Linked DNA regions of Homo sapiens. The protein of the gene in region 1 interacts with the protein of each later gene in a pairwise test. Each region holds a gene or a part of one and is shown in the gene's direction. Other genes may lie near its edges. The genes, in order: ODAM, SPATA31A7 and TOLLIP.

Region 1 (8,757 bases):
TCACACTCCACTGCCTAAAGGATAGAATTTGAGAATAGAGGCATTGGTGAAAGCAAGGGGATTCTCCTGAACAACATTTTGAAGTTAATAGTTTAGATTTTTTCAAGAATATTTTATAATTAAAATTTCAAAAAGAAAACGAATATATCAGTATGAAATGGTGACACATGCTTTGCAGAGAACTTAAACAGGGTAGTATGATAGAAGCAGCTGCCCTAGATTGAGTAATCTGGGAACATTCTTCTGTGGAGTGATACCTAAAATGAGATATAAATTATAAGAATCCACCAGCCCCTCACTAATTGGAGGCAGCGCATTCCAGGCATAGGGAACAGCAGGTGAAAAGGCCTTAAAGAGCAATGCATTTAACATATTCAAAACTCAGAATGAAAGCTAGTGAGGTTGCAGCTTAGTGAATAAGGAGAAGAATGAGAAGTCATGAAGTGGAAGAATAAAGCAAAGGCCAGATCACTGAGGACTTTGTAAACCAGGTTTAAAAAAAAAAAAAGTGTCTGTTCATGTCCTTCACCCACTTTTTGATGGGGTTGTTTGTTTTTTTCTTGTAAATTTGTTTGAGTTCATTGTAGATTCTGGATATTAGCCCTTTGTCAGATGAGTAGGTTGCGAAAATTTTCTCCCATTTTGTAGGTTGCCTGTTCACTCTGATGGTAGTTTCTTTTGCTGTGCAGAAGCTCTTTAGTTTAATTAGATCCCATTTGTCAATTTTGTCTTTTGTTGCCATTGCTTTTGGTGTTTTAGACATGAAGTCCTTCCCCATGCCTATGTCCTGAATGGTAATGCCTAGGTTTTCTTCTAGGGTAAGAGGAAAATAATTGAAATAGGAGATAAGGGGAGAAGGAGGAGAAAAAGGAAGAGAAGCAAATGGAAAAAGGGAAGGAGAAAGGAGTGGAGAATAAGAAAGAAAGACAAGATAGCAATTTTTTTGTTTTTTGTTTGTTTGTTTTTTGTTTGTATTTTTAGTAGAGAAGGGGTTTCACCAGACAAGATAGCAATTTTTTTGTTTTTTGTTTGTTTGTTTTTGGTTTTTTTATAGCAAATTTTTTGAAGAGTAGAATAAAATACATTGCTATCAGAAAGCATAACATCTTATCAAGGAGATAAACTTTTAATGCAACAAAATGGAAAAAGATTATCACCAGAAGTCTGAGGGAGAACTAAGGCAGACTGGGCAATGTATTACTCCCCTTGACTAGGACATTCATAAGAGAGTCCCCTCACCACACCACAGGCTTTGCTAAATGTTTGGGAAGGAGGAGAAAGCCTGATATTGGCCAAACATTGTGGACTTCCTCCCTCATGACATCAATCATAGGCAAGTTACCAGAACCATAAAATTTTGTTTAAAATTGAGTTGTTTAATGACGTGTTTTGTTTCTCCAAAAAGTTGTAGTACAAAAACTGGGTTAAGGCCAAACTGATTGCAGGCCCCAAACAAAGAAACAGATGCAGGAGTCATTAAAATGGTAAGGATGGAATTCACAAAGCAAAAGGCAAAATAAATACTATAGAGGTTTAGTACAGAAAGAAACTCTTTCAGGTCAAGGGACAAAAGAAATTACTTTCAGAGAAAGTGGATGTTGATTTACACCCAGGCTAGAACAAGCTGTATTTGAGAGACATGTCTCCCATTGCATACTTGACTTGCCACACTTCAGGGAATCGCTGAAAGTTGACCATTTCTAGCCCAAACTTAGCTGTGTGCTGGCCTCTCTCAACTACTCTGAAACTTATGAATTCCTTCTTATGAAAGGAAGAGGTATATTCTTTTATTTTTCTTAACACCTTTATATCTAAGCCAACACTCCTGGAAATTATAGCCATAATTCACATACACATACCTACAAATCTTAAATATAATAAAATAGACTCACCTCATCAAGCTAGAGTTACTAAGCTAGGACATACTGTCATAGTGGACATGGGATGATTAGTATCCAATAATGTACAATATCAAATAGAAGGGATTACTTTAGTAAAGTCTCATGGTAGTTAACAGAAAACACCCAATGTAATAGAAGAGATTTAGTTGACAGCTTGCTGATTCTCTGTATTTACTGCTCGAGTTATAATTTTTTTGTTAATTGTCTTTATTATGGTACTATGTCTTTCTCCTCTCTAGTTAGGCATCTGGGTGCTTTGAGATAGAACTACATAATTGAGAATCAAAAGACCTGAATTCTAGCCACAAGTCTGGTACCTTCTGAAAGTGTGAAAAAAACTGTAATGTCCATGAAGGTAAAAACTATTTGTATTAACATTAGCACTAAGTTCTGAATGCCTAGCAAGGATATGGACTATAGAAGTTGTGCAACAACTATTTCTTGTATAAATAAACTAATTCATTAATGAATGAAGTCACTGAACCTTCTGTACTTCAGTTTTCTCGTTGAAGCATGAGGGTGATATATACATATCTTGCCTACCTTGATATATCATTAGAAGTCCCTGGGAAATTACAGCTCAGGTGGAAGAAAATTATTTTAAGAAGCGATAAAATTTAAATTCAGTTGTCATGATCCACAGAACATTGCTCTGCTTTACAATGGCACTCTGTTAAGCCTTGATTGATTTTTCAGGATAGTTGAAGGAAAAGAGAGCAGGGATAACATTTTGAAAGCACTAATTTACAAACCACTGTTGTTTACTTTTCATCATCTATGTTACTGGAACAGAACAAAGATATAGATGGTACATAATTCAACAGTCATGTGTACTTGGCATTAGAATATGTTTTTGTACTTTTATTTGAATGGAGGGTTGTCTGGTGTTCTGGTAATTGAACTAAACCAAAATAATGAAGTTATAATGATGACATCAGGTTCCGGATTTCCTCATCTTAGGTCCCTGCAACTTAATCCATACAGACTCACATTGCTCTGGAATTAGACCACCTTTTTTTCTTCCCTGAATGAAGAAACCATTTATTTAACAAAACTTAGGGGAATACCTATTTTGTGACTGACACAGGAATAGATAATGAGTATATTCAACCTAGTTGAATGGAAGAAACAGACATATACAATATCCACACTACAACGTGATGAAAACTAGAGTCCCTTGCTACTTCCCCTCCTAGCTAGAGATAACTTTGCCTCCAATGACACAGGTTCTTGAAAGCTATCAGATAATAAAGCATAGCCTGTTCTTTTTCACTTCAACTGCTGAATAACTGGAGAGTTTCAATTGCTTTTCTTTAAATACTCAGGTAATGAAAAATAAAAACAAAAAGAACGCAATGACGGAAGTCTTCCAATTGTCTCCAGAGTTGAGGAATATAGTTAGATAAACAATTCACCATCAGAATAATTTTTAAATTGACTGTGTTTTTCACTCTATAATCCAGTTGCTGACCTTTCCAGTGCTTGGTCTTGACAATTTTCTGGCTCAGTAGTGGGGTTAGCTGGCTAAGACCCTGCAGCCTGCAATAGAAAATAGTCTCTCAAGAGAATGAGAGCTTATGGCGTATTTAATTTGACAATATTCAGAATAGACCAAAGTCATTAATTGTAAATATATATCATCATGCAATACAGAACCTTCCTCCTAGTTCACTCATTCAACAAATCTACTGCATTTTCCAGGCAACAATTGGTTACATTAACGACCTTTATGTTTAAGCTTTAGTTAAATCTGCCATTAACATCTAGGGTTGTCTAATTTTTTAGTTAATCTAAGAAGACCACTATCACAAATCTCAGGAAAGTTACTTTTGCTAAAAGAAAAACTTTCAGCAAATTAAATTTAACAGAATTTAATTGAGTAAAGAATGATTTGCAAATCAGGCAGCCTGGAATAAAAATACATTCAGAGTGACTCCGGAGCTGCCACGTGGTCAAATAACATTTATGGACAGAAAAGGAAAACGGTGTACAGAAAATGGAAATGAATTACAGAAACAGTGAGTTGGTACCCGTTGCAGCTCTGCAATTGCCTTATTTGAACACATTTGAACAGTTGGCTGCTTGTGATTGGCTGTCACTCAGCTTCTTGTTAAAACAGTAGGTTACAGTTTGTTTAACATCATTAGGTTACAGTTCACTATTATAAGAAATCTTTAGGTCAAACTTAAAATATGTATGGAGGCAGCTTTAGGCTAAACGTAATTCAATTTAATACTTTCTAATAGATATAAAGTCCTACTGGTGGGTTTTCTTCTTTAGTAAAGAAAAATGTCTTTTTATTCTAACTAATGATTTATGTACTTGGATTTTTTGACCAGATAAATAACAAATAGTATAATTATTTTAGTATTAATGAGCCATGCAAGCTCTGTCTCATTCTACCAAAAAAGACAAATGTATTAAAAGGCAATAATTTTGTTTTCCTGCATAAGACTATCATGAGTTGCTCAAGATTAAGTTAGCTAAAAAGAACTCTTCCATAATAAAAATTAATTGATAATACATTGTCAAAACACTTGTGATCCTGAACTATTAGAGGGGAGTCGATATTAACAACAAAAAAACTACAAATAAACACAAAACTCCCATTATGAAGGAAATTTAAATAATAACAATGTGCAGAGAGTAATAGTTGTATTTTGAATATTAAAATATATAACAAAAACATTTTTCAATAAAAACATGTATTCACGGCTATTTTTTAAAATGTAGGATATCATGCTTTATACTTATTAAATTATTTATTTCAAGCAACATGATCATATACAAATACATTTCATAGACACATGGAAATTTAGCAATTTTTTAAGGACTGCATTCAGTAAGTAGAGGGAGAATAACTGATGTTTTCAAGGTCAAATCTAAAGGAAACTAGCCCACATTTACTTAGCCCAGCATTGAGGAAGCAAAGAATTCTGCTAAGTAGGCTTTGAAGTTTTGCTTTTCAGACCTATGATTCCTAACAATTCTGTATTTCGCCCTTGAAGTAAAAATAATCACCCATTTATCCTTGACTTTATTAAAGATATTAACTTTTATTCAGTTACAGTATCCAGTTTTATTCAATTAGAGTATCCAGTTTAAGAATTATAAAAGAGTAGAATAGAATTATTCTAGGAGAATTATTCTAGGAGAATTACTCATAACCAAACCAGAAGCCAGAAATGATCACAGGAAAACATTTCTCAGGGGATAATTTAATAACATTACTAAAAGTGTGGGAATCCATATACCACCTAAATGATTAGGAAAGAGGTTATTAGCTAAGCCATTGTCTGAAACCCACTGAATCACTGGTCCTTTTTGAACAATGATTGGTCCTTTTTTTCTAAAGATGAGTTTTAAAATTTAAGAGAAGTGCCAAGCAGTAGAGCTGAGAGAGGAAAAGAACACAGATCTCGCATGGTTCAGATTTTTCTTTTTAGGTCCAGGAGTAAGGTAAGATATCAAATCTTTGCTTTTATAGTTTGAAGAACCAAAATCAGTGAAATCTGCAGGATAGACTATCAAGTTCACCCTAAATGCTTGATTAGGTCAATGATTTGAAGCAGGGAAAAAAGTTTCACATCTAGAAGACAAGAGAAATATACTTAAACAGGTTACACCATAAATCAATATCACAGTTCAGTTTTATAATCTATTGCCATAAATTACAAAAACATTGACTCAGTTGCTTAGTTCTAGTATATTATTCTGTTATTAGACTACTAAGTGGAAATTATCTGGTATTGGACTGGTATTGTCAAATCTCTATTGAAGTACTTTTCAACATAGACATTAAAATTGCTGCAGTAATAAGTCCCTAGTTGGTTAGCCTTAGTCATGACCTCCCATGGTCTGATGGGCCTGCTCCTCTCCTTGTAGGGCAGCACTAGGAGGAGATCATCTTGTTCTTTAATGCATTCAACCACATCATATGTCTCCAAATGAGTATTTTGTTCAAGCTAAAAGGACAAGCAAACAATCTTGGTTTTTATAAACAGCTTGTCTGAGAGAAAATAAAGAGTTATATCAGAAATTTACAAACATAACTTTTTAAATTTTAAATTGCAAAATGTAAGTAAATACTATAGAATTCACCCAGCTATTCCTTTGATTGAACAATACTAATTATTTTGTCATGAATTTTAAGTAATGTCTTTATAAAGCTAAAGATCACAACTTATTTTCTAGATATATCATACGAAAATGAAAATTATAATTCTTCTTGGATTCCTGGGAGCCACATTGTCAGCCCCAGTAAGTGATTTTATGGCACTACTAGTCCCACTGTGTTAAACCTTCAACAATCCCTTCTTTTTACTATTTCTGATTTTTTTTTCATTTTTACTTTTAGCTTATCCCACAGCGTCTCATGTCTGCCAGCAATAGCAATGAGGTTAGTTTAAATAATTAAAACAATCTCCTCCTTTTTTTAATGGAAATCAAGTGGGAAGAGATAGAAGTCGTCATTTAATTTATACTGTGTTCCTCACCACTAGCTTTTATGTATATCCAAGCACATTTCTAATGTCCATGTTTGATTATATAACAGGTTACCTCTAAAATATTATTCTGCTTCCCTTGATTGATTGTTAATTCTTCAAAGGCGGATACAATATTGTTTATATCTTTTTGTTCTAATAACACCTCACACAGGTGTATATAGGTGTTTAAAAACATAAAATGACTAAACCACTGGAATGTGCTAACGTTGTGCAATCTCATACCCAACAGAGGAGAGGTTGTTAAATCCCAACCTTGTTTTAAATCTAACTTCTAATCACTGTAATTTAATGTAAGCCTAGTGAGAAAATGTCCCACTTCTAACAAGAAATTGAGCAACCAGCTATGACTTGTGCTATATTTGCAGTAAACATTGTTCCTACTCATTTTAGTGTGTAGTAATCTTGATTTCATATTATTTTTCTTTTTCTAGTTACTTCTTAATCTTAATAATGGTCAACTTTTGCCACTACAACTTCAGGTACCTCCATTTCAATAATTACTTTATGGGGAATATTTACCTATTGCTCATTTATGTTATTTTGTAAGAAAACAAAATGTTTCCTGATCCTATTTTGGAAATCTCAGTTTTTAACATTATGAATTTGTCTCATATGTTCTAGTGGCCATTTGCTTGAAGATTAAAGTAAAAACTGTAATTTGAACAACACTTATTTATTGAGAACTTGGTATATGCCAGGCACTAATTCTCACAACTATGAGATAGTTAAAAGTAATTATTTTACAAAAAGTCATGCCCAGTTAACCAGTAACAGCAGGTTGGCAGGTTTAGGGTTAAGGTAGGGGAAAATACAGACGGTTTAAAACCAGTGTGGCATATGCAGATGTTGGGCTCTTTTATCAACCTTATCCTGCCCCATATTTCTCATGGCCATCGGGAATTTAGCATTTGCTTCGTATTATTTGCTTGGTTCAAAATGAATCAAGATGCTGTCCTTTTTTATGTTGCAACATTGGAACTATAGAAATTGTTTGTATTTTGCCTCTTTCTTGCTCAGGACTAATTTTTAAATTCTTTTTGGCATGAAGGGAACATGCTTTCTTTCCTTTGTGTCTTTTTAGGGCCCACTTAATTCATGGATTCCACCTTTCTCTGGAATTTTACAACAGCAGCAGCAGGCTCAAATTCCAGGACTCTCCCAGTTCTCTTTATCAGCTCTAGACCAGTTTGCTGGACTGCTCCCAAATCAGATACCCTTAACAGGAGAGGCCAGTTTTGCCCAAGGAGCCCAGGCAGGCCAAGTTGATCCCTTACAGCTTCAAACACCGCCTCAGACACAACCAGGCCCCAGTCACGTAAGTCAGGCCTCTTTCATTTTGTTCTGAGGAGAGAGAACTGCATGTTTAATCTGACAATGAATATGAATCAGCTTTGAAATAGGCAGGGGTTTTTGAACAATATTTTTTCTCATTATATGTTTCTACCATCGCTGTAAGTTCTTTCTTTTATTTTCTGATTTCTAAGACAAAAAATATTTAAATCAGCTACTCTAGGATACAGCAACAAGCCAAAAAAGTTAAAAACAAGTCTAGGATAAGATAGGAAAACTTCAATAATAGGCAGTTTATGTCAGCACATGTAACGGATGACTTTTTGTTGTGGAAACTTGTTAACACAAAGGATAAATTTATATGGCTAGCTCTAGGAAAAGCAGCTCAGGGATTTTTAAATAACAAAGTCAAGCATACATTTTTATATAATTCTTTTTTTTGGCAGGTGATGCCCTATGTATTCTCCTTCAAAATGCCTCAAGAGCAAGGACAGGTAAATGGATATAACAACACTGCCCATAGAGATGGCTACATACACTCTCCACAATGCTTTCTATTTCTAGCTCTGACTCCTATAGCAGGGCTATAAAAACCTATATAATGATATCACTGTCTAGATAACATCATTGCTGGGCTAGTATCAGTTTGTTGATGTTGGGCTCACTTAACAACTCCTTAAGGACAGGCAGCTAAGTAGAGTCTCCAGGACCCCTGAATTTCCAGGGCATTGCTATGTTGAGAGTAAAAGAGCTCAGTAAGCCCCAGGTCATGTCCTCTCTGCATCCAAAGTGCTGGAAGTTGGGAAAAACTCAAGAGAAATACCATGGGCTGACTTTATCCAAATTTAAATTTTGCTTCAGAAGGAGATGCACTAAGCTGATAATATATGATATGATGTAGAGATAAGAAACACTTGCCCATGTTATTTGGCTGTTATGAAATTCTGCTCAAAACATTTTAAGCTTCTTATACATTTCCAATTTGAATCCATATTACAATCAAATGGTAATTTTTTCCATTAAATAGGATAATCTTTTAAAAATGAATGCAAACTAGT
Region 2 (8,543 bases), on another chromosome or scaffold:
GAAATAGAGAAATTTCTAGAAACATACATCCCCTAAGATTGAAACATGAAGAAATAGAAAATCAACACAAATAATGAGTAAAAATATTGAGTCAGTGGTCAAAAAGCTCCTGAAAAAGGAAAATCCAAGACCAGATAGCTTAGTGGAGAAGTCTAGCAAATGTTTAAAGAAGAATTAGTACCATTTCTTCACAAACTCTTCCAAAAGTTGAAGAGGAGGGAATACAAACATTTTTTATGAGGCCAGCATTACCCTGATAACAAAGACAGAAAAGATACTACAAGGTTGACAGATATTTTTAAGGTGCAAATGATGTATTGTTGGAATTGAAAATACAGGATTTGTTTGTACAAAGATTTGTGTGTGGATAGGTGGATGCGTACTGGTGTGTGCATGCATACATATACAAGCTTACCTTGTTTTATTGCACTTCACTTTATTATGCTTCTTGGATATTGCATTTTTTACAGGTTGAAGGTTTATGGCAACCCTGCATCAAGCAAGTCTACCAGTGCCACTTTTCTGGTAGCATGTGCTTATTTTGTATCTCTGTGTTACATTTTTGTAATTCTTGCAATATTTCAAATGTTTTGTTATTATTATATCTGTTACGGTAATGTGTGATCAGTGATCATTGATATTACTATTGTCATTGTTTTGGGGCATCACAAACCATGCTCCAAAAGACAATGAGCCTAATTGATACATATGTGTGTCTGAATGGTTCCATCGATCTGCCCTTCCTCCATCCCCCCAACTCCTCAGGTCTCCCTGTTTTCTGAGACACAGGAATATTGAAATTAGGCCAATTAATAACTCTACAAAGGCCTCTATGTGTTCAAGTGAAAGTAAGAGTCACACATCTCTTATTTAAATCAAAAGTGAGAAATGATTAAGGTGAGTGAGGAAGGCATGTTAAAAGCTGAAACAGGCCAAAAACTAGGCATCCTGCACCTAACAGCCAAACTGTGCATGAAAAGAAAAAGTTCTTGAAGGAAATTAAAAGTATTACTCCAATGAACACATGAGTGGTATGAAAGTGAAAGAGACTTATCGCTGATATGGAGAAGGTTTGAGTGGTTTGGATAGAAGATCAAACCAACCACAACATTTCCTTAAGCCAAACCCTAATCGAGAGCAAGGACCTAATTCTTCTTAATTCTCTGAAGGCTGAGAGAGGTTGGGAAGCCACAGAAAAAAAGTTTGAAGCTAGCAGAGATTGGTTCATGAGGTTTAAGGAAAGAAGTCTTCTCCATAAGATAAAAGTGCAAGGAAAAGCAGCAAGTGCTGATGTAGAAGCTGCAGCAAGTCATCCATAAGATCAGCTAAGAGAAGCAACAAAGGTGGCTACACTAAACAAAGCTTTTTATTGCAGATAAAACAGCCTTATATTGGAAGAGGATGTCATCCAGGACTTTTACAGCCAGGTAGCAAAATAAATGCCTGACTTCAATGCTTCAAAGAACAGGATGACTCTTTTGTTAGGGGCTTAAGCTGAAGCCAAAGCTCATCTACCATTCTGAAAATTCTAGGGCCCTTAAGAACTATGCTACATCTACTCTGCCTGTGCTCTATAAATGGGACAAAGCCTGAATGACATCACATCTGTTACGACATGAATATTTTAAGCTCACACCTGAGAACTACTGCTTTAAAAAAAGATCTCTTTCAAAATATTATTGTTCATTGACAATTTACCTGGTCACCCAAGAGCTCTGATGGAGAACTACAAGAAAATTAAAGCTGTTTGCATGCCTGCTAATACAACATCCATTCTGCAGCCCAGGGATCAATGAGTAATTTAGACTTTCAAGGCTGATTATCTGAGAAATACATTTCATAAGGCTGTAGCCACCATGTATAGTAGTTCCTTCGATAGATCTGGGCAAAGTAAGTTGAAAACCTTCTAGAAAGGTTTCACCATTCTAGAAGCATTTGCAATTCATGGGAGGAGGTTAAAATTAAGAACATTTGTGATTCATGGGAGGAGGTTAAAATATCAATATTAAAAGAAATTTGGAAGAAGTTGATTCCAATCCTCATGGATGACTTTGAGGGTTCAAGACTTCAGTGCAAGAAGTAACTGCAGACGTGGTGGAAATGGCAAGAGAACTAAGATTAAAAGATGTGAAGAGAACTTAAGATGTGGCTGAATTGCTGAAATCTCATGACAAAATTTTAACAAATGAGAACTTGGATGAGCAAAGAAAGTGGTTTCTTGAGATGGAAACTACTCCAGGTGTAGATGCTGTGAACCTTGTTGAAATGACAACAGAGTATTTAGAAAATTGCATAAACTTAGTGGATAAAGCAGTGGCAGGGTTTGAGAGGATTGTCTCCGATTTGAAGGAAGCTCTACTGTGGGTAAAATGCTGTCAAACAGCATTGCATGCTACAGAGGAATCTTGAAAGAAATAGTCAACTGATGTAGCAAACTTCATTGTTGTCTTATTTTAAGAAATTGCCACAGCCACCTCACCTCCAGCAGCTTCCACCATGATGAGTCAGCAGCCACAACACTGAGGCAAGGCCACTGACCAGCAAAAAGATCATGATGTTGAAGACTCAGGTGATCGATAGCATTTTTAAACAGTAAAATAATTTTTGACTAAGGTATGTACATTGACTTTTTTATACATAATGGTATTGCCCACTTAATAGACTACAGTATAGTATAGACCTAACTTTTATATGCACTGAGAAACCAAAAATTCTGTGTGATTTGCCTTATTGCCATATTTGTTTTATTGCAGAACTGGCCACCAGAATCTTCCCTTCCCCTAGAACGCCCTTCACCCAAGCCACCTGCATTTTCCCCTCACCCATCATACCCACCCCCATTGTCTGGCCTGCCCTCCACCTCCTCCAAAAGCCTTCATTGCTCCCCCACTGCTGGACTGCATTCTGACTCCGTCTCAATGTGACTCAATGGCACTTCCATTGGGCACTGCCCTAAAGAGCTCATCTCCACAGTGGCCTGAAACCAAACCCACAGTATCTCTGAGGTATGCCTATGTAGCAGTCCCATAAGTTATCGTGCACTTTAAGCATTACCAAGTCCAGAACTGTAAATGCTACACATTTACAGAAATACCACTTGAAGGTTTAACTACTTATAACTGTTTCATAATTAGAATTACAAATTTTGAATATTAATTATTTTAATTGGGGGGAGGGGCCAAGATGGTTGAGTAGAAACAGCTCTACTCTACAGCCCCCACTGAGACAAACATAAACAGCGAGTGAATTCTGCATTTCTAACTGAGGTATCCAGATTCCCTCATTGGGACTGACTAGGCAGTTGGTGTGACCCATGGAGAGCAAGGAAAAGCAGAGTTGGGCGACAGTTCACCCAAGAGCTACACAGGGCAAAGAGACCTCCCTCCTCCAGCCAAGGGAGGCAGTGAGGGATTGTGCTACCCACCCGGAGAACTGTGCTTTACCCACAGATTTTTGCAAACCCCAGAACAGGTAATCCCTTTGTGAGTCCACACCACCAGGGCCTTGGGTCCCAAGCACAAAGCTGTGCAGACCCATAGCAGGGGCTCCAGCTGGCAGCCACTTGGGCAGGTACTGAGCTGTAGGAGTTTCTGCGTACTCTGGTGGCTCGCAGAAATCCAGTGAAGCAGGAGATCCATCAACTCCCATGAGAAGAGGGCTGAAGCCAGGGAGCCAAGCAGACCCACTCCCACAGAACCCCACAAGCTAAGACCCACTGGCATGGAATCCCCACTGGCTAGCACAGCACCTGGAGTCTGCCTAAGAAGACCAAGTTCCTGGGGGGAAGGGTGACCGCCATTACTGCGGGTCTAGCCGGTGGTTTTCCCCCACCAGTGCTAGGGAGACTGGGTGGTTTGCGCTGGGCAGAATTCCCCACAGTGCAGTACAGAGGCTGTGGCAGATATACCATTATTGCATATCCAAAGGAATATAAATCATTCTATTACAAAGATACATGCACGTGTATGTTTATTGCAGCACTGTTCCCAATAGCAAAGACATGGAATCAACCCAATGCCCACCAATGATAGACTGGATAAATAAAATGTGGTACATATACACCATGGAATACTATGCAGCCATAAAAAGGAATGAGATCAAGTCCTTTGCGGGGACATGGATGAAGCTGGAAGCCATTATCCTCAGCAAACTAACACAGGAACAGAAAACCAAATACCACATGTTCTCACTTACAAGTGGGAGCCGAACAATGAGAACATATGGACACTGGGAGGGAAACAACACACCCTGGCACCTGTCGAGGGAGGGCCGGTGGTAGGGAGAGCATCAGGAAAAATAGCTAATGCATGCTGGGTTTAATACCTAAGTGATGGGTTGATAGGTGCAGCAAATCACCATGGTACATATTTGCCTATGTAAGAAAACTGCATGTCCTGCACATGTATCCCGAAAGTTAAAATAAAATAAATACATAAGTACACAAATAAAATTTTAAAAGACAAAAAAAAAAATCTTAATTGTATGTGGGTAGTTCCCTTTGATTGAAAGTGAGATAGAAATAATTTTTTAAAACTTACTATTCAAAATTTGCAAAACTAAATAAGAGTAAAAGAAATTTACATTTTGTCCCTGGATTGATACAAGACAAAAACATAGTGTGGAAAAGCTGGAGTTGAGGATGAACGAGATTCTGAGAATAAAAATCCCTGGTACATAGCCAAAATTTCAGAACTTCAGATTTTCAAGGGCTATAAAATAGGTAACCTCAAGCCACCGTCTCCAACAGATAAAAGGAACCAGGTAATATCTATATTCCAGGGAGAAAGAATAGAAAATTGGCTATCACTGACAAAACTTAGTGGGAAGGAGGGATCTAGAAGGTGGGATGGTGGAGGGATCCCCAGCTTGGGGGGTGGGGAGGGGCTGTGCTTCAGTCTCCCCCTCCCCTGCCCCTCTCCCTCCCTCTCCCCCTCCTGCTGCACCTCCCCCTCCCTCTGCGCCTCCCCCTCCCACTGCCCCTCCCCAACAAAGGAGCCCTTTGTGACATCAAGGCCCCACCTCTGTGACGCAGGCCTGGGCCCCAGTCCCTAGTCCCCACGGGGATGCCCAGAGCTCAGTTGCTTGAAAGCAACGCGCCTATTCACATGGAGAATCTTCCCTTTCCTTTAAAATTACTTAGTGCCTCATCGCTAAACGCCCCCAGTTCCACACCATGGGTGTTGGATATCTTCCTCACTTTGGTGTTTGCCCTGGGGTTCTTCTTCCTATTACTCCCCTACTTATCTTACTTCCGTTGTGATGACCCACCCTCACCATCGCCTGGGAAGAGAAAGGTAAGGAACCCTCAGTCCCAACCCACAGAGCTTGATTCTCTCCTTTCTTTTTATTATTAGTTCCACTTTTCCAAATCCAGTGGAGAGCCTTCTATGATGGGAAGTCTCAGAAGAGACCAGAACATCATCCTTCCAGGGAGAGGCAGGGCAGCCAGGGGTTGGTAGGGGTAGATAGTGTACTGGGATTTCCATCCCAAGCTCTCAGTCCATCTGTGGGGGAGCACAGGAGGCATCAAGGCAAAATCAAACCAGTGGACTCAGCACCAGTACCAGTCATGAGACTGGGGAGGTCTCTGTCCGAGACCAGGCCCTGAGCCCTGGCTCATCAGCCCCTTTCTGGTGCAGGTGGCTCAGGGCCCAGCCTCCCCTGTGTGGGGTGATCTGGGGCCTGTGCTGGGCCCCTGAGGGCCTCCCACCAGGGCCTGGTGTCTCCTCTGGTCTTCTGGGAAGCAGAATCCTACCTGATAGCTCAGCAGTGCCTGCGGGCCTGAACTTGGGTGTTCCTGGAGCAGAGGAACAGGGACTGAAGGTGTCCGTGGTGGACCTCATATTGAAAATCCCTCTGTGTGTGTGTGTGTGTGTGTGTGTGTGTGTGTATTTTTATTTTATTTGTGTGTGTTATTTTTATTTTATTTTATTTTATTTTATTTTATTTTATTTTATTTTATTTTATTTTTTGAGATGGAGTCTCGCTCTGTGGTGCAGGTTGCAGTGAAATGGAGTGATATCGGCTCACTGCAACCTCTGCTTCCTGAGTTCAAGCGATTCTCCTGTCTTAGAGTCCTGAATAGCTGGGGATTACAGGCGCCCACCACCATGCCTGCCTAATTTTTGTATTTTTAGTAGACACGGGGTTTCACCATGGCCAGGCTGGTCTCAAACTCCTGACCTCAGGTGATCAACCCACCTTGGCCTCCCAAAGTGCTTGGATTATAGGCGTGAGCTACCACGCCCAGCCCCCTCTTGCTGTTTTTCTAAGAAGAAAAGCAGTTTATCATCCATTTAAACAAGAGTGGGAGGAAGCACACAGAGCTCCCTGAGCAAGACAGAGAGAGCCATGCGGTTCCTGAGTGCAGCATGCTGCGGCTGGGCTGGGGCAGAGAGGGAGAGCCGGTCCTAGCTTCTCACCCTTTCTTGTCTCCCATTGTCATCTTGTCTCTCTGCGTCATCTTGTCTCCGTACGTCATCGTGTCTCCCAGTGTCCAGTAGGGCGGAGGCGGAGGCCCAGAGGCAGGATGAAAAACCACAGTCTGAGAGGTAAGGCTCTGCCAGAGCACACTAGAGTTAATTTGATCTCATCTGTCCCGAAGGGAACTGACTCTGAAGAAGTCAGTTGAAGAAGCCTGAGGTGGGGGCTCCTAGGAAGGAAATCAGAACCCCGGGTCCTTCTCAGATTCCATGCGGGAATGAAGCCATGGTGGGCCAGGGACTGGGCGTTACCCAGCAGGGGGCAGTGTGTGTGTCCTGGGGAGACCAATGCCTGCCTGGATGCGGAGGGGGGTGAGGGGGCCTCCCGCTCCCTGGGAACAGCTGTCCAACTCTGCTAAGGCTGATTCCTCTTTGAGACCACCTCAGTCCTTTCTCCCCACAGGGCAGTTGTGAGGACTGTGGGGGTGGGGGGTCCGTGTGTGGAAGCCCTTTGTGAATGAAAAAGCCTTGTCCTCCATGCCTTGCTATTAACGTCGGGGTCATGTGGCTTTGGACACAGATGGGTGGGGTCCAGGGTCTAATTCCCCATGGTCCTCCCTAAAGAAACAGCCACTCAGCCTCCTGTGAGAACCCAGGCCCCTCCCTCACTGCCCTAACCCAGTCTCCTGATTTCCAGCTGGTAGAGAGTGCCCGAGAGGCCTGGAGGAGACTTCGGACCTGCTTTCACAACTGCAGAGGTGAGGCACTTCCCCTTCCCTGCATCCTTCCTACCAGGGCTGGGACGTGACCCCAGGGCCACAGGCAGCCTGGAGCTGACCTGGGATGGGGAGACCAGGGGGACAGAGGATGGGAGTAAAACCCTGGGGCGAGGGGTAGCAGGAGAATTGGGCAATCAGGGTGTGGGGTGGTGGAGGGGCTGTGGCCCGAGCACCCACTCTGCCCTCCGGCCCCACCGGCTCCTGGCTGCAGCTCGTGCCTCCTGTCTCCTGCAGCCTCCTGGGGCCACACCTTGACAAAGGTGACTTTGGTCAGCTCTCCGGTCCAGACCCCCCAGGTGAGGTGGGTGAAAGAGCACCTGATGGAGCCTCCCAGTCCTCTCATGAGCCTATGGAAGATGCTGCTCCCATTCTCTCCCCGTTAGCTTCCCCGGATCCTCAAGCCAAGCATCCTCAGGATCTGGCCTCCACCCCATCACCAGGCCCAATGACCACCTCAGTCTCCTCCCTAAGTGCCTCCCAGCCACCAGAACCTTCCCTTCCCCTAGAACACCCCTCACCCGAGCCACCTGCACTTTTCCCTCACCCACCACACACCCCTGATCCTCTGGCCTGCTCTCTGCCTCCTCCAAAAGGCTTCACTGCTCCTCCCCTGCGGGACTCCACACTGATAACTCCATCTCACTGTGACTCAGTGGCATTTCCACTGGGCACCGTCCCTCAAAGCTTGTCTCCACATGAGGATTTGGTGGCTTCTGTCCCAGCCATCTCAGGCCTTGGTGGCTCAAACAGTCATGTTTCTGCCTCCTCCCGGTGGCAGGAGACTGCCAGAACCTCGTGCGCCTTTAACTCATCAGTCCAGCAAGATCATCTTTCCCGCCACCCACCAGAGACCTGTCAGATGGAAGCTGGTAGCCTGTTTTTGCTCAGCTCTGATGGCCAGAATGTCGTGGGGATACAAGTCACAGAAACAGCCAAGGTCAACATTTGGGAAGAAAAAGAAAATGTTGGATCATTTACAAATCGAATGACCCCAGAAAAGCACTTAAATTATTTGCGGAATTTGGCTAAATCATTGGATGCTGAGCAGGACACCACAAACCCAAAACCCTTCTGGAACATGGGAGAGAACTCGAAACAGCTGCCCGGACCTCAGAAGCTCTCAGATCCTAGGCTCTGGCAGGAAAGTTTTTGGAAGAATTATAGCCAGCTTTTCTGGGGCCTCCCCTCTCTGCACAGCGAGTCCCTGGTGGCTAACGCCTGGGTAACTGACAGGTCTTATACTTTACAGTCTCCTCCTTTCTTGTTCAATGAAATGTCCAATGTCTGCCCAATTCAAAGGGAGACTACAATGTCCCCACTGCTTTTCCAGGCCCAGCCCCTG
Region 3 (5,627 bases), on another chromosome or scaffold:
CTCTGCCCTGCAGGAAGGAGGGGAGTGAGCCAGGCCACTGCCCCTCAGCCCACACCGTGGAAGCACCCACCTCTTCCCCCGGGGGTGCCTGCTCCCCAAGTGAGTGTGTTGGGGCCGTGCTGTTGGGATTCACTTGAGGGCCAGTCGGCGCCACATCCCCTCATTGTCAGCAGAGCAGGTTTCTCGGGACACCCCAGGCCGTGACGTCGCAGCGTCACAGCCACCGTCATCGATTTTGCAGCAGTTCCCCTCCTCCTGTCCCTTCCCCATCAGACTGGTAAAGGCTGGAGAGAGTGGGAGCACGGTGCCTCCGTTCCTCATGTTGCCACGCTGTGGGGAGACGTGTGGGCAGGGACAGGCGATGGCCGAGCCCCATTCCTCTTGTTGCCATGCTGTGGGGAGCTGTATGGGCAGGGACAGGTGATGGCCAAGTTCCTGCCCGCCTGCCAGCCGGGGCGCCCAAAAAGCCACGGGGATCCCAGGGGTCCCTCCAGGACAGACAGCGCCCAAGCCTTTGTCTTGTTTGAGGAAGAAGAAAGGGTGGTGAGGGTGGCCACGTCCCCACCTGGCCATGGTTCGGTTCGTTTTCCGTCATTGCCGAAAGGCTGATGAGCATGGGGATGATGCTTCCCCAGTGAGGTGAGGTGTCCAGTGGCCAGGACAAGAGGCAGGTGTGGGTGTGGAGGAAAGGTGGGCCTGGCCCTGAGAGAGCCGAGAAGCAGAGGAGGCAGGGGTGGGTGTGGAGGAAGAGTCGGCCTGGCCTAGAAGGAGCCGGGAAGCGGTGGCCTTCCTTGCTGAGGAGTCCTGGCCTTTGCAGCAGGTGCAGGAGGCTTGGTGGCAAGCCCTGTCTGCTCCGTTTACACCCCTGCAGGTCTTGTTGCTGGTGTTGGTTCAGGCCAGGATTGAAGTGGCTTCTGCTGCCTTTAGGATCCTCCAAGTGTAGAAAGGAACAAAAGTCCTATCCTAAGATTGGGGCTCTAGCGCTCCAGTGATCCTAGCTGGGAGATGGTTCGTGCTTTTAAAGGTGAATGAACGGGTGAGCAGTGAACCCTTGCACTGCTGCAGCTGCTGCTGCAGGAGGAGCTCTGTGCCTCGCTGGTCGCCGAGCCCCGCGCACGCTGCCTGTGCTCTGTGCCTCACTGGTCGCTGAGCCCCGCGCACGCTGCCTGTGCTCAGGGCTGCTCGTGGTTTTAGGGAGCGGCCACCAGGCTGGGAGGCGAGTCTTAAGTCCGGCCACACGGTGCCTTCAGGGGTGTGTGTGCTGCAGTGGCTGAACCGCCGTGCGTCTCCTGCTCGATAGATTGCATCTCAGTGTGTCCTCCCGCATCAGACATGGGGCGAGGGGCCTGCGTAGCTGTGGGGTGGAGATGCCAGGAACCCTGGACGGTGGCCCCAGTGCACTGAGGGTCCACTGTACACCGCACCTGCTGCCCCACTTGTTTGAGTTTTGTGAGCATTTTCTTGGTGTAGTTTGTATGTGTGTGTGGGGTTGTCATTCTGGGCATCGGCTGCAGCTTTGCTGAGGTCTTCAGTGCCTGTGGTGATTGTTCCCCACCGGCACACAGTTTAGTGACACACTTGCCAAGCTGCAAAAGCATCTTCTAGAATGCCTGATAAAGGAAGAGGCTCAGACCGTGCAGTGTTTGGATCAGCGGGCGTGACATTCCGTGTAGTCCGTCCCCAGATGCAGAGGACTCTGTGAGCCCACTGGTCAGTGAAGACGAGCGTGTGCAGTGCAAATTCACGAGTTCTGAAGGGATCAAAACACCACCCCCAGCCTGCTAGTTATAAAACAGACTCGGGTGAGATTTGAAAGATCAAACTTTGATTTTTATATGGAAGGAAGATGAGTTAGTGAAGGAGGCGTCACAGAGGGCCCTGCCCACCTTCCCCGTGGCTGTGCCTGGGGTTGCTGTTTGGGGGTTTGCCTTTCCAGGGTGTCTTGCGGGACTGGTGTTTGCTGAGACCCGAGGTGGCCCCTTCCTCAGGGAGGCCGGTGGGATGCGTTGTTTTCTTCCTTCAGCAGGAGCTAGTGTGGCACTTCTGGAACTTTCCGACGTTTTTACCAAACTTGATCTTTGCTTCCAGGGATGCCCGCTGTCTGTAGCCCCGGCATGGTGCCCGTGGCCCTGCCCCCGGCCGCCGTGAACGCCCAGCCCCGCTGTAGCGAGGAGGACCTGAAAGCCATCCAGGACATGTTCCCCAACATGGACCAGGAGGTGATCCGCTCCGTGCTGGAAGCCCAGCGAGGGAACAAGGATGCCGCCATCAACTCCCTGCTGCAGATGGGGGAGGAGCCATAGAGCCTCTGCCTCGATGCCGTTTTGCCCCCGCTCTTTGGACACGCCGACCCGGCGCTCCCCAAGGAATGCTGTCCCAACAAGATTCCCGTGAAAGAGCACCCGTGTCGCCCCCTCCCGTGGACTTCTGTGCCGCCCCGTCCACACCTGTTCTTGGGTGCATGTGGGTTTTCGGTTCCTGGCGGTCCAGGACGGGGCGGGGGCTCCCCTCCCATCTCGTGCTGGGAGGTCTCAGCGCGCTCTCCTGTCCCTGGGACGTGCGTCTCTCCTTCTCATGCCGTTCTGGAAAATGCTCTTGCTGTAGAGAGCAGCTGCTTCTGCCAGGGTGTTGGAGGTGGTGGAGCGCCTTCCGATTCCATTCATGGCATTTTGTGATGTGATGTAATTGGAATAGAGCTGTTGATTTAAGGCACACACAATCCCTCACACTGTGGGTTTTTTTTAGAACTTCCCAGACGAAAACTCACGCCCTTGCCCTAACGCGCTTTGCTGTGAGCCTGGCCCCTGCCCAGGGCTTGGGTCTGGTGAGCTGAGCAGCTTCCTGTGGATGGTGTGGGGCCGGCCTCTGGCCTGGCTCACCTGGCCACTGTCCAGCCAGCCTTGTGACAGACTCCGGCCTGAAGGCAGAATGAACCCACACCTGGAGTGAGGAAGGGGGCCTGGCACGGTTGGCCAGGCTCTGCCTGATTGCCAGCCAGCGGGCATCTGAAGCCGGGTCCTTCGCCCGCCGGAGGCTGCCGTCCGTCTCTCCTGCTGCGCTCGTGCCAGCTCCGTGGGTGTCCTCCCAGGGAGCTTCTCTTCTCAACAGGCCTTGCGAGGCTGGGGTGAGAGGTGATAGAGGCAGCACTGTGCATGATTCCGAGAGGGTGTGGTGGCACTGCCAGCCGACTGCTGACAGCTTGGGAGCTGCTGTGCCCAGGACGTGGGTTCAGCGTGGGCGAGGAAAGCCTGGCGAGCGTGGCCCTGTAAAAGCTTTCTGAGGCGGGAGGCGCTCACTTACCTCTGACTGCCTGGGCGCTGCGTGTAGCATCTTGGCCTACAGGACAGATTTTAGGTGACACCTGGTTATGACAGTCAGAAATTTGAGAAGCTTCTCACAAGTGATGCACTTTAAATAATCTGCATGCCATTGAGACACCTGCATGTCTGGTGTTTGTGGTTCAAGTGTCTTGCCGCCGGCCTTCGGATGTAAACCCACTGATAACGGACAGAAAGAGAATGCCCACAAGTGGGTCTTCTGTGGAAGATGCAGAAGGAGGAAGTTAGTGCTTACATTTTAGTCTTTTTCTCCCTCAAAAAAATAGGTTAAGTTTCAGTGCCAGCTAGAAAATACTGCTTTCTGCCATCGATTGGGGGTGGTTTTTGTCAAATATACTGTTGATAAATATTTATTTTTGTAAACTTGAAGTGTGTGGTGGCCGTGGGGGAGGGACATGCTGGCAGCAGGCGCCTTCTTCAGCTGTGGGTCCTAAAGGCCTTTGATCCTTTGAAGAAGAAAGACATGGTATTTGTTCAGCAGACGCCGACCACTCAGACGGAGGGGCCCCTGGGATTCCCTGTCTCAGATGGCCTGGTCTTACGCCTGTGTAGATTTCTTCTCCATTGGGAATGAAGGTGTCAGGCGGGACTGGAACGTTCTAGATGGTATGTTCCGTGATATTAACAACTCTAACCCAGGACAGACCACAAGCCACACTCAGAGGCCTCACTGTGCTGGGGGCTTCGGTGTCCAGGCGCCCAGGTGTGGCCACCAGCACCGGTTTCTGCCTTCGCGTTGCTGGGGTGCAGTGAGACTGCCACACGCGTGCACATGTGGCTCTGTGGGTGTCTCCTAGAGAGGACGTGGCCCCTGCTGCCAGCCCTTGAGCAGCCCGTGTGGGGGCCCGAGGGACCCACACAGTGGGGGCCAGCCTCGCTGGAGGGAGAGCAACCCTTTGCCGATGACCACGCTTGCCGCCATCTCTTAGTTTTCTTTTTCACAAGCGCTTTATTTTTTTAATAGACAAATCACATTTTGCAAGGCCTTTAATTAAATAAGATTCTTCTTTCCTTCATTTTATGCTTTATTTCCTGTTTGAAGGCTTACTGTAGAAGTGGCTTACTGTAGAAGCAGCTTGCTGAGCCCCTCCGAGCGGTCCCCAGAATTAGCTGGTTCACAACCCCCACCCTCCCCCGCCCCCGCCTGTGTCAGGTGTGGATGAGGTCGTCACACTCAGAAGGACAGGCTTGTCTGCCAGCTCACAAGGGGAGGCTGCAGTGGGTTTGGGAGCTGGGTTTAGGCCCCTGGTGTCTGAGGGCCCAGGCCTTGCCAGCCTCTGCTGCTCCTGCTCCTGGGTTTGAAGATGCAGGCCGATCGCCAGCTCCGTGGCAGCGGTCACTAAGGACAGCCTGACTGTGCCATCTTGGAGCCTCAGGCGGGGCTCCGGAGATAGAAGACAGGTCGCCGGAGGCTCCCCCTCCTCTCCTCTCCCCTCTGCAGATGCTCCCTGGGCGCTACCCTGCAGGGTGCCAGGCAGGAGTGGTCTCAGAACGTGCGCTTCTGATTATTTTACTGGGGTCCATTGTCCAGATTTTTCTTTGATTGTAAAATATATTTTTACTTTTTAGTCTTCTAATTTAATAAATGATCCATATAAAAATAGAGAAATAAAGTCCTTTAAGGGAAGGTTTACCATGTTTGTTCCCGAGTATTTTTTAACTTAATTCACAATACGCAGGAGTAACGAATCAGTCAGAATCAGAGTTCACTCGTCAACAGACTGGGAGCAGGAACCTTACACCTTCAGACCAAGCCTGGCCTTTGCTTCCCAGATTGAATTAGAGGAGGGAAGTCCCAGGTGCTCCTCCCTCAACAGTGGCAGTGGGCGTGGGTCTGCTCTTCCAGCCCAGGCACCCTCTCCCCACTGGGTGGTTCTGTGGTGCCTTTTCATTTCCAGGCCATTTCCATCTGGGAGTGAGCGTGGAACACGACCCCGTTCTGAGAGAGCCCACTGGGACCGTGGCACCCCCATCTCAGGAGTCTGAGCCCCTAGTGATGACTGGCTCATGCTTAGGGAGCAAAGCGCCCATAAATGTGAGCAGCACTCTAGAGACCCCGAGCCACCCTGGCACCCGGGCACGGACGCGTTGCTGGAGCGTCCATGGACACGGTGGGGTGTCTGCCCCCTCTCTGCTGCCCAACCCCCGAGGCATGCCCGCCGGTTCCCTGCCTCCACCTGAATGTGGCCTTTCTGCAGTGTTGACTCCACAGCAAACTTCCAGCCGTTACCTCTGTGGCTATGACTGATGGCATCAGTTCTTCTGTGGAAAAGACCCCTGGGCGTGGGA

The links.
Region 2: the proteins of ODAM (region 1) and SPATA31A7 interact in binary tests that used the Homo sapiens proteins (3 or more experiments, as listed by UniProt).
Region 3: the proteins of ODAM (region 1) and TOLLIP interact in a two-hybrid assay, tested with the Homo sapiens proteins (2 studies listed by BioGRID and IntAct).

What each region holds. Positions count from the first base shown.
Region 1 is NC_000004.12:70,190,434-70,199,190, forward strand, and holds the start of ODAM (odontogenic ameloblast-associated protein isoform 1 precursor), read left to right. Parts: upstream 1-5,291; 5' UTR 5,292-5,324; coding exon of another isoform or gene 5,325-5,360; intron 5,361-6,095; coding exon of another isoform or gene 6,096-6,110; coding exon 6,111-6,161; intron 6,162-6,258; coding exon 6,259-6,300; intron 6,301-6,840; coding exon 6,841-6,888; intron 6,889-7,490; coding exon 7,491-7,724; intron 7,725-8,145; coding exon 8,146-8,193; intron 8,194-8,757. UniProt on the Homo sapiens protein: Tooth-associated epithelia protein that probably plays a role in odontogenesis, the complex process that results in the initiation and generation of the tooth. May be incorporated in the enamel matrix at the end of mineralization process.
Region 2 is NC_000009.12:61,184,960-61,193,502, forward strand, and holds the start of SPATA31A7 (spermatogenesis-associated protein 31A7), read left to right. Parts: upstream 1-5,076; 5' UTR 5,077-5,105; coding exon 5,106-5,294; intron 5,295-6,493; coding exon 6,494-6,551; intron 6,552-7,119; coding exon 7,120-7,180; intron 7,181-7,435; coding exon 7,436-8,543. UniProt on the Homo sapiens protein: May play a role in spermatogenesis.
Region 3 is NC_000011.10:1,273,715-1,279,341, reverse strand, and holds the end of TOLLIP (toll-interacting protein), read left to right. Parts: intron 1-2,088; coding exon 2,089-2,303; 3' UTR 2,304-4,971; downstream 4,972-5,627. UniProt on the Homo sapiens protein: Component of the signaling pathway of IL-1 and Toll-like receptors. Inhibits cell activation by microbial products. Recruits IRAK1 to the IL-1 receptor complex. Inhibits IRAK1 phosphorylation and kinase activity.